Linked DNA regions of Homo sapiens. The protein of the gene in region 1 purifies or fractionates together with the protein of each later gene. This does not show direct contact. Each region holds a gene or a part of one and is shown on either strand. Other genes may lie near its edges.

What was found.
Region 2: the proteins of PRKD1 (region 1) and MAT2B purify together in Homo sapiens (affinity purification with mass spectrometry; one large-scale study listed by BioGRID and IntAct). This does not show direct contact.
Region 3: the proteins of PRKD1 (region 1) and DSG2 purify together in Homo sapiens (affinity purification with mass spectrometry; one large-scale study listed by BioGRID and IntAct). This does not show direct contact.

The regions. Positions count from the first base shown.
Region 1 is NC_000014.9:29,634,259-29,637,911, reverse strand, and holds part of PRKD1 (serine/threonine-protein kinase D1), read left to right. Parts: intron 1-1,417; coding exon 1,418-1,622; intron 1,623-3,370; coding exon 3,371-3,494; intron 3,495-3,653.
Region 2 is NC_000005.10:163,508,609-163,512,261, forward strand, and holds part of MAT2B (methionine adenosyltransferase 2 subunit beta), read left to right. Parts: intron 1-3,393; coding exon 3,394-3,588; intron 3,589-3,653.
Region 3 is NC_000018.10:31,496,600-31,500,352, forward strand, and holds the start of DSG2 (desmoglein-2 preproprotein), read left to right. Parts: upstream 1-1,577; 5' UTR 1,578-1,652; coding exon 1,653-1,697; intron 1,698-3,753.

The DNA.
Region 1 (3,653 bases):
CAGGTTAGCTTTTTCTGCAGATAGTGGTCTTTATACCTTTAGCCTGATACCAGTTTTCCAATTCCTCTGGAAAGGAAAATGGCTGTAAAAGATCACAGATACTTTCAGTTGAATATTTTTGTTGCTAAGAAGCTGAAGAATGACTATCTTTGCTCTAGAACTTTCTTCTCTAGAAGAAATATATACTGTACCTAAAAGAAGAAGAAGGAAGAGCTCTCCAGGAAAACATTGTCACACTTGTTTCTGGCTTGGAGATTCATGAATTAGCTGCCAAAATTGAAAGCTTGGCGATCGTCCCACTTTCTGTGGCATGTGGTGTTGACTTTGTTCAGGCTCAGGGAATGTCAGTGTGTACTGGATAACTATAACTAAGGGGATACAGAACAGTTTTTGATGTTGTTGATTACTTTGAAATTCTATTTTCTTATACATTCAGAAAAATCTGGTAAAATGTGAATTTTCCAAGCTTGGCAGGCTAGAGTCTCTCATTAATCTGTATTTTCATTTTAAAATGAGTACTTTGCATTAGTAAGTAATTTTAATTTTTGCCATTACCATCAACTGTATAATGACAGGTTCAATATTACTTCAAATATCAAATGTCTTATTTAAAAGCTGCAGCTATGTGACCAATTTAATATATTGGAATTCGTGATTTTCAAAGTTACTCCAATAGTAAGAATCAGTGGCTTGAATCTTTTTTCATGTGAAAATTTCTGTCATCCTCTTACATACTTTTTTTTCCCACCAGGGCTGTGCTTCTAAAATATGAGCAGCTTCCCAGTCACTTGGGCCTGGTATCACTTTGCCTTCTAGCATTTTACTTCTATCCCAGCTTTGGCTTCCTTCCAAGGTTTTTCATGACTTTTCATGTTTTCAGGCTTGGGAAAACGGAAAACGAGCATCTACCTATAAAATTACATGTTCAACCTCTCATAAACTCAGATGCATATAAACTGAAATAAAAAAGGAAATTGAAAATCATGGAAGGATCTGGAGGCCATTATCTTTAGCAAACTAACACAGGAACAGAAAAGCAAATACCACATGTTCTCACTTATAAGTGGGAGGTAAATGATGAGAACACATGGTCACATAGTGGGGAATAACACATACGGGGTCCCTTCAAGGTTGGAGGGTGGGAGGATCAGGAAAAATAACTAATGGGTACCAGGCTTAATACCTGGGTGATGAAATAATCTGTACAACAAACCCCCATGACACAAGTTTACCTATGTAATAAACCTGCACATATACTCCTAAACTTAAAATAAAAGTTAAAAAATAAAAAATAAACTCATCACAGAACTACCTCTTTGGGGCTTCCAATTGATTTGTTTTAGGATCACCTGACTGTCTCTTAAGCCCTGGCTCCAAGATTCCAGGCTTATCTTCATGGGTGAAAATAATTTTCTAGATTTGCTTAGCCCTGGGGCAGAGTCTGATGTGGTCATGGAAGAAGGGAGTGATGACAATGATAGTGAAAGGAACAGTGGGCTCATGGATGATATGGAAGAAGCAATGGTCCAAGATGCAGAGATGGCAATGGCAGAGTGCCAGAACGACAGTGGCGAGATGCAAGATCCAGACCCAGACCACGAGGACGCCAACAGAACCATCAGGTGAGAGCAGCACTCCCAGCCTCAGCCAACAGGGGAACCCCAGGCAGTATTTTCTCTTTAAACCTCTTTGATATTTTAATAGATTATAGTAGAAATGTGAAGTGCACGTTTACTTTTATATGAATGAACTGCGTGCTGTAAATGAGAGCCTTTGAAGTTAGGAGGTCTGGGTTCCCTGGGAGAAGTGTGGTTGCCATTCTTTCCCAGCATCACCTCATTCATTGAACTATTTTTTTTTTTTTTTTGCATGTGAGAGATGCTCATGTTTGCCATCCACAAGTTTATTACTAAGTTAATATTAATTTGAAGCTCATTGTGTAGAAACAACAAAAATCAAGATCAAACTCAGCAGAAATCATCTATTTTATTAGCTGGCCCCTGTTACAAATATCATAGTCTGTGTACACTTCACTGTTCTTGATATTATTTCAGAAGTATGTGCAATTTTATATCTGTTATTTAATTATGCTTTTGGTTACTGGATGATCCCCACTTTTTATATCAGGAGTCAGCACAATGTGGCCACCAGAGCAAATTGGACTGCTGCCCAATTTGTAGTAAAGTTTTATTGGAACATAGCCTGTCCATTCATATTGTCTGTGGCTGCTTTTGCACTATATTGGTAAAGTTAGGTCTTTTGCAAAAACTAAAATATTTATTACCTGGCCCTTTACAGAAAATGTTTCCTAGTCTCTGATTTATATTATAAAGCCTATTGAAACTTTTGTGTCCATTTTACGAATGCCATGTTTATTGACAAACAAATTGTTCATGAGAGTAGAGCAATAAAATGATTGTTTTTTTCCATTTAATGGCATAATGAACATTTTTTAAATAGTGGGAAATAATTGTCTTGTGACCTGTCTTTTGAAGACATACACTTCTTTAGTACCAAAGAGTTTGCATGGTGCCGGGGGGCAGTGGTGGGAATTACATATATATTCATGTTGTGGGAAGGGGGACAAGGAGGGAGGGATGAAGAGAGGAAGAAACAGAGACTAGCAGATTCCAATTTTTATGACATTATGCAGAGAAACTAAAAATTCATGTTGAATAATGTAATCTCTAAATGATTGATAATGTACCTATAATAGGAAATAAATAAGCAAATAAGCTTTCATGTGTGAGTCTGAATAGTGTGGCCTCAGTAGACTAAGAAGTACTCTACCTCAGGTTTACCTGAAAACTGAACACCATACAGTTCAACCCAAAATATGAGGTGCTTATTACCCAGCCTTGGGAATTTTTTTTTTTTTCAGATGGAGTCTTGCTCTGTCACCCAGGCTGGAGTGCAGTGGTACAATCTTGGCTCATTGCAACCTCTGCCTCCCGAGTTCAAGCAATTCTCTGCCTCAGCTTCCCAAGTAGCTGGGATTACAGGTGCCCGCCAACATGCCCAGCTGATTTTTTTTGTACTTTTAGTAGAGACGGGGTTTCACCATCTTGGCCAGGCTGGTCTTGAACTCCTGACCTCGTGATCCACCCGCCTCGGCCTCCCAAAGTGCTGGGATTACAGATGTGAGTCACTGCACCCGGCCAGGATTTTTTAAGGTGTACAAACAACGTGCCTATCACTCTTCAGAGTAACCCACTTTCAGAACCATGGTGCCTGACAATACGTTTTACTAAACATGAGATGTGAATTTTGTAAAGTTTCACTTGGATTAGCTGACATAAGGTTTTATGCATGAAAATACATAAAATGTACCTGAAAACATTTTTTCCCTACAATATTTTGACTTCTCAAGTCCATCAACAAGCAACAATATCCCACTCATGAGGGTAGTGCAGTCTGTCAAACACACGAAGAGGAAAAGCAGCACAGTCATGAAAGAAGGATGGATGGTCCACTACACCAGCAAGGACACGCTGGTAAGATCCACAGGGAACAATGTTCTCTTGCCTTGCTAGCTTTAATTAGAGGAGTTGCTAATGTCCCGTGAGGACTGTGAGATTTCTGCATTACTCAGAGTAAACCTCAGCACAGGCATGACACGGGATTAGGTAAGGTGCATTACAGTCTCTGGGTGT
Region 2 (3,653 bases), on another chromosome or scaffold:
TGGTTTTTTTGTTTGTTTGTTTTTTTGAGATGAAGTCTAGCTCGTGTCCCCCAGGCTGGAGTGCAGTTGTGCGATCTCGGCTCACTACGACCTCCGCCTCCTGGGTTCGAGCGATTCTCCTGCCTCAGCCTCCCGAGTAGCTTAGATTACCTAAAATTACCTAGAAAAAAATATGAAACAGTGTACAGTACCCAGCAGTCAGGTGTCAGTGCTCAAGATTTTTATTAAGAGTGACGATCTGAAGTGCAAGCATTTACTGAAATGGAAATGATACTGCACAACATTTTATTTGAAAATTAACATGTTATAGGCCGGGCGTACTGGAGGCCTTACATAGTAACCCAGGGGTATAAGGATATAAAGTTGCATTTTCTCATACAACTCCACTTCCTTTTTTACGTTAAGGTATTATATTCCCTAAAGAGCCTTGTTCTTCTCTATACTTAATACTGCATCAACTCCAAGAAGCTCTTAATTAAAAGAAGATCATCTGGGCTCTTAAGTTGCATTAAGTTAGCAAAAACTACTGCAAAACTGTGACGATTCATAAGATTTTTTTTAAATTCATTTAACAGATGTTAAAATGAAACTGTACTTCACAGAGTCAGTGAAGTACACAGATCTTAATTCATTGTTTAGTAACTTTTGTGGATTGTATAATGCTTTGGCTTCTATTTCAAGTTTTCTTTTTTAAGGGGGAAAGATACTGTTGTCATTTTGAGAAAGGTAGATGGCACTTTTTGTTTTCCTTGTGTAAGAGAAACGGATTGTTATGAAAGCTTTGAACTTTCCTGGAGTTCGAGAGTACACTGGTCCTCTAAGTGCGGTCTCCAAATCACGATGATCAGCATCACTTGTTGGAACTTGTTGGGAATGCAAATTATCAAGCCCCACCCCAGACCTTTGTGATCTAAAAGCCCTCCAGGTGATTCTGATCCACACTGAAGCACGAGAACCACTGACCTTAGGAACTGTTACCTGTTCCTTTGCTTCCGTAGAGTGAAGTAAAAAGTGAGGAACTCAGAAGAAACCAAATTATCTCTCTTTTAGAGTATTTTTTCAGGAATCTTTACCGTATTTATCCTGTGTAAATTGTTTTCTCTGACTGTATCTGTACTAGACTTGGCATGTTTTCTCCTCTTTACAGTTCAATCTTTGTAGAGCTGTTTTCTTGCCAAATTTCAAAGAAAATATTTTGTTGGCTGAAATCCTTGTTTTCATAGATCAGTTGGTTTAGAGCCAAGTTTTGCAACACAGCCTGAATGAAATTGCTTTCAACTTTTAAAATGTCTTGAAATTGGTTGAACTAAGGAAAAATAATCCTAAGAATTTACCTTTATACTATCTTTCCCTGTTAGTCTTTTCATTTTACGTTTTTGATTGCTAGAAATACTTGATTTTGGTGTCTTTTAAAAAAAAATGTATGTATTCGGCTAAGTAATTTAATTGAGCTAAGGGCTTTAAAAGGTCTTTGGTTATTGTATATGTATTTAAAGATTTTGACAGCCCAGAATTAGGTGATTATAACAACTCTTGAGTTAAAATAACTGGTTTGTTTTTAATAGTAAAAGTTGACTTTATTCAAGATCCTGGTTGGAAACTTGGTGTTACCCATCTTGGGAAGAAGGGACATTTTTGGAACTATGCTTGGAAACATAGAATTTAAATTTTTTCCTAAATAGTGGTTCTTTTTCATTTCTGTGTGTAATAATTTATTTGTTTCACAGTAGCAACACAGATGAGCTTAAAATATTTTTTCTTATCCTTTGCGTTTATTAGTTTTAGCTTTTTTTTTTTTTTTTTTGAGATGTAGTCTTGCTCTTGTTACCCAGGCTGGAGTGCAGTGGTGCCATCTTGGCTCATTGCAACCTCCGCCTCCTGGGTTCAAGCAATTCTCCCGCCTCGCCTCCCGAGTAGCTGGGATTACAGGCACCTGCAACCACGCCTGGCTAATTTTTTTGTATTTTTAGAAGAGATGGGGTTTCACCATGTTGGCCAGGCTGGTCTTGAACTCCTGACCTCAGGTGATCTGCCCAGCTTGGCCTCCCAAAGTGCTGCGATTACAGGCATGAACCACTGCACCTGGCCAATTTTAACTCTTCTATGTAGGTAAATTTTGGGTTAACTAAGGAACATTTACCAATTTGGTTAAACTTAGAAAGCATTTAAGTGTTGTAAGGACCAAGTTTTTTTTCCTCCTCGTATATTCCTTTGAAATGTTGATTAATTCTCTACCTTGGGTCCATCAAAATATGATAAATTATTGAGACTTGAAAGAACATTTGGGATTAAAATCTGAAGACCAGAAATGTCAGCTTGTAAATATATTGGCAGATTTGACGCAAATACTAATCAGGCCTTAAAATAGGTAAACTTAAAACACGTTTCTCTCTAGAGACTCAAAGAGCACCTTCAGTCGTATCTATAGAAGCAAGACAAATTGTAAAGTCTTATAAACTGAAGAATGTAATGTTGTTATTTACTATTTAGGTACTTGGAGCAAAAGTATAAAAAAAGTTGCTGTTTACTAACTCATTTGGGTATTATCAATCATAAAAATAGGATTTTCTGTTAACATAGGAAATATAAATCTACATAATTCCTTGCATATCATCTTGTGTTCCTTTCCTTGGGTAAGATTATTATAACTTTTTTAATTAAAAAAATTTTTTTTTTGAAACAGGGTCTCACTCTGTCCCCCAGACTGGAGTGCATGTCATGATCTCTGCTTATTACAGCCTTGGCCTCCCAGGCTCGTGATCCTCCCACCCCAGCCTCCCAAGTAGCTAGGACTACAGGCATGCACCACCTGTAGCTCAGCTAATTTTTGCTTTTTTTTTTTTTTTTTTTTTTTTGGAAGGACGGGTTTTCACCATGTTGCCTAGGCTGGTCTCGAACTCCTGGGCTCAAGTGATCCACCTGCCTTGGCCTCGCAAAGTGCTGGGATTAAAGGCATGGGCCACCATGCCTGGCAAAAGCTTTTTCTTAAGTGATACAGTTTTTTATATGGTTTGATTAATCATTGTTCTAACTTTATTTATTACATTTTTAAGTTGTGTTTTCTGCTTTTTTTATTTTAAAAATTTATTTTTATAAATACAAAGTATATTTTTACTGTTTTTTTGTATTGAGATGGGTCTCATTATGTTACCCAGGCTGGTCTCAAGTTCCTGGGCTCAGCGGAGCTGCCTGCCTCGCATTCCCAAAGTGTTGGAATTACAGGCATGAGCCTGATGCCCGACCCTAACTTAACTTTAGAATTGGCTTGCAGATATGGGACATGAGTCAAAATACGTAGAATTAAGACATTTAGGGAACAACGATGGTGCCTAATATATTTGAGAGAACTGTTTTCAAAGTTAGTAACTCTTTCTATCCGCCTTCACCTTTTAGGAGGAAGTTAACATCCCTAATAGGAGGGTTCTGGTTACTGGTGCCACTGGGCTTCTTGGCAGAGCTGTACACAAAGAATTTCAGCAGAATAATTGGCATGCAGTTGGCTGTGGTTTCAGAAGAGCAAGACCAAAATTTGAACAGGTTAATCTGTTGGATTCTAATGCAGTTCATCACATCATTCATGATTTTCAGGTATGATTTAGGTTATTTTAAGATATACATGAACAATATTAAGAGTTGTCTGGATGATACAGAAA
Region 3 (3,753 bases), on another chromosome or scaffold:
TTAAATTCCTATTTGTTAGTTATTGAAACACAACAGACAATCGCAAACACAAGTTGACCTTTTTGTGTTCCTTGAGTCCAGTCGGGAAGGGCCCTTGTGACTGGGTCTCATGCCAAACAACTTGTTACGATAAGAGCTAGGGTCCCAGACCATGAGGAAACTTCATGAGAATCCTCTGTAGTCTGGTGAGTGTAGTGTCCGACTCTGGAGCCCAGGCTGTTGCTTCCCGGTGTGGTGGTGAATCCTCCACAGTCTGGTGAGTGTACCTATAAATATATCTTTTCCTTCTCCCCTTCCCATTGCAATTTGCTTATTATATCATTTGCTTATTATATCCGCGTTGCCATTTAATTGGGATAAAGGTTGTTTACCCTTAAAAGTATGGTGTGTGTGTCTTTTCTTCTCCCCTTGCGCCTTTCTCGCACAGAACAATAGGCTCGTCCATTACTTTCAGTCGTTACATTTCTTGGAAGTTTCGTAATCCGGTGCTGATTCTAGTGTTTGGATGCCCATACTAAGTTTCTGCTTTTCAAGATGTCAATTTAACATCTCACCTCGCAATCACGTTGTTCTAATTTTAACAATTATTTATTGAACCCTTAAGTTCTAGACACTGCAGAATGCTTTACCTAAGATTTTCCAATTTCGTTCTCAAAACTTCCCCGTGCGTTGGTCGCTATTAACTCCATTTGACAGATCTGGAAACTGGGGCCCAGAGAGGCTAGTCCAGGCCACTCAGCTAGTCACTCTTGGAGCGGGGCCTCTGATCTAGCTAGTGGTGTAATAGAAATTGTAAATCATTTCAAAGAATATATATATTTCCCGTAACACCCTAGAGTTTTCTCCTAGCCCAAGAATTGTCCTTTTTGACCTCTGGTGATTGTTTCTCCTTGAGCCAGATAAGCTGCAAACCTGTTGGAAGCAGTGAAGGGCCATAGGGAAGAGCAGCCTTTGGGGAGACAGCCACCTGAAATTCTGCTCCACAACCTCCGCTCCAGGAGAGCGGGCCGAACGCACCGCGGTCGCAGCTTTCCTGAGGACACGGGTCCCCATGTCACTAGCGACACCTGCGCTCCGGGCCCAAAGCACAATCACAAAGTGCGGGACCTTTGGGCGGTGCTGGGCGGCCTGGCCCCGCAGCCACTGGGCCGGTTGGTCCCGCAGGACTCTGCTCCGTGGAGCTTTTGTCCTTGGGCCGGGGCCCTGCGACCCGCGCTACCCAGGTCGAGCCCCGCCAGGAGGCTCCCTCCTCCCGCCATTCTCCAGAGAGTAGGGGGTCGGGAAGGAGAGAACGGCGGGGCGGGGCCTGCCACCCACAGTCCCCAACCCAAGGACGTCACGGTCCCAGGTGCGAGTGCGAGCGGGCGGGAGTCCACCCCGCGCCTCCCTCCTCTGCTGAACTCCCCACCTCTGTAAAAGCGGCCCGGGCCGGCCCCCGGCTCCATTTTCTCGCGGCGGCCACACCTGGAGCCGCGCCTTTGGGTTGGGCTGGGCTGGGCCGCGCAACCGCCACGGGAAGACAGCCCTCGGGGCGGGGAGGGAGAGGGTGGCCGGGCCGGGGGGAGGCCGGGGCCAGGGAGGAGCCGAGTGCGCGCTCGGGGCAGGCGGCGGCGCGGAGCGGTGCGGCGGCGGGAGGCGGAGGCGAGGGTGCGATGGCGCGGAGCCCGGGACGCGCGTACGCCCTGCTGCTTCTCCTGGTAAGTGCCGCAAGCGGGACAGGGGAGCCACCGCCGGGGAGGGCGTCGGTAGGCGAGGTCTAGACCTCGCGACCAGACTTGCCCGCCGCCCTTGTGCGCGTTACCTGCCCGGCGCTCCTTCCTGCTGCCCGAGGGGGGAAAAGGGCCGGGCAGGCTGCGGCGAGATCCGACCTGGGGCTTCGGAAAATCCTCTTGGCTGGAGCCAGGAGAGTAAGTTGCGACCTATCGAAGTTGTGTTTTCCTTCCCGCGTCACCCAGGCCCCAGCGCCCTTTTCTGTGGTGTGTGGGTGTAGTGAGCCCTGGGGCGGGGAACACCATTGCTGGGGGTCGGAGGCTTTGTTGAGAGTCTCTGGGACGAGAAACGTGGAGGCAATAGGGAACAACCTCGCGCTTCTTCCACGTTCCTTAAATTTCCCTAGGATTCCCCAGCTCCTCTAGCCGCCGACACAAGCCAGTGAACTGGGGAAACCAGGAACATACTTGTATTCTTAGAGTGCAAAAAGTTGGCTAAAAATTTTTTAAAAAGGTGTAATTTACAAAGCTTAATTTTAAGTGGATCACCCACATATAGTTTTAACTTAAAGTTTATGAAGTTGGTGTTTCAAAAGTTTTCCAATATTAAAGATAATAAACATATGTAATAGTTTGAAGCCTTATTCATTTAAAAGGTTACAGAAAATGGAAGTGTAGCGCCCCCTCCCCCACGCCCCACCCCTCACTCCCGGAAACGACGTTCAGTCCCTGGATTTAGAGTTCTTTTGCTCAAATTGGATTTTAAACTGTTGGTTTTCTGTTTGTTTAAGGGGTTGCACGTATGTATCTCGCTTATAGGGGTTTACTAAAGGGGTTTTAATAAAGTGACAGTTATGCTGCAAATATAGGTGTGAGTTCACCTTCCAGAGAGTTCACAAATATGTGTTTACAGAGATTAGATGCAAAATCATACTCAGTTTTCTTACGTAATAATTAAAAATGCAAATACATTCACTATATTCAAAGTTCTAACTTCCAAAACATGAGCCCTTCTATCCTCGAGTTTTGGTGGGATGTGGAAGAAAATCGTGTGTGTGTGTGTGTGTGTGTGTGTGTGTCTCAAAACGGAAAAAGGCGTGACTGAATCCAGTCTAGAGATTTCCATGAACTCTCAGGTGGAAGAGCATGATAATTAGGGCGTCCAGGCCTAGCACACAGTTCATTTTCATGCTCTATTTATCCATTTCATTTTCCCCGTGTCCTTGAGGTAACTTTCAATGAAAATTCATTTTGTTGACAAAACTTTTCTAAGACGTGATCTGGGACGTCGTTTTTAGCCTCTGGGCTGGCAAAACAACTAATCCTGTCACCTTGATGTTTCCTTGTTTAAGGAGAATCCCAAGCTAATGTAACACCTAGCTTACTTTGAGAGTTACATATTCTTTCCATATATGAAAATAAATGACCTTTAATCTTCAAATAATGTAGCAATCAGGCCAATTTGTACACTCACAGAGTAGCAGGTAAGCAAATTAGGCATATCTTTCATTTTAGCAATTTGATACTTTTACCTTATTGGGCAGTAATAAACATCTCCTTTAGAAAGCGACTATAGCCAATGGAACAGGAGCAAAATTCTTGGACTGTTCTATGTATTTTCTATAAAACTTTCTGCAGTATAAATTTGAATATGTTTATTTTTGTCCAGAGAGTAGTGGGCAATGCAGCATTTTACCCCCAGTGTGTTTGCAGTTGCAGTTTTTTGGTAAAAAAAAAAAAAAAAAAAAAAATGGAAAGCAACTCATCTGACAGAAGTAGTTGCCAAGGAAACAGGTCCTTTATTGGAAGGAATATAAATTGTAGTCTGTTAGATCAGAGTTCAGTTGCAAATAACGGAATTTACTCTAGCTATTTAAAGCAAGAATAGGTTTATTTCGGGGCACTAAACTGACTACCTAAGTGTAGGAAGGATTGAGAAGACTGCCATTTGAGCTGTCAGTAATGACTTCAAAGCCACACAGCAGAGCCACACCGCTTAGGGAGCTGCTGCCTCTCCTGTGACCAGGAACTGCACTGCCACTCC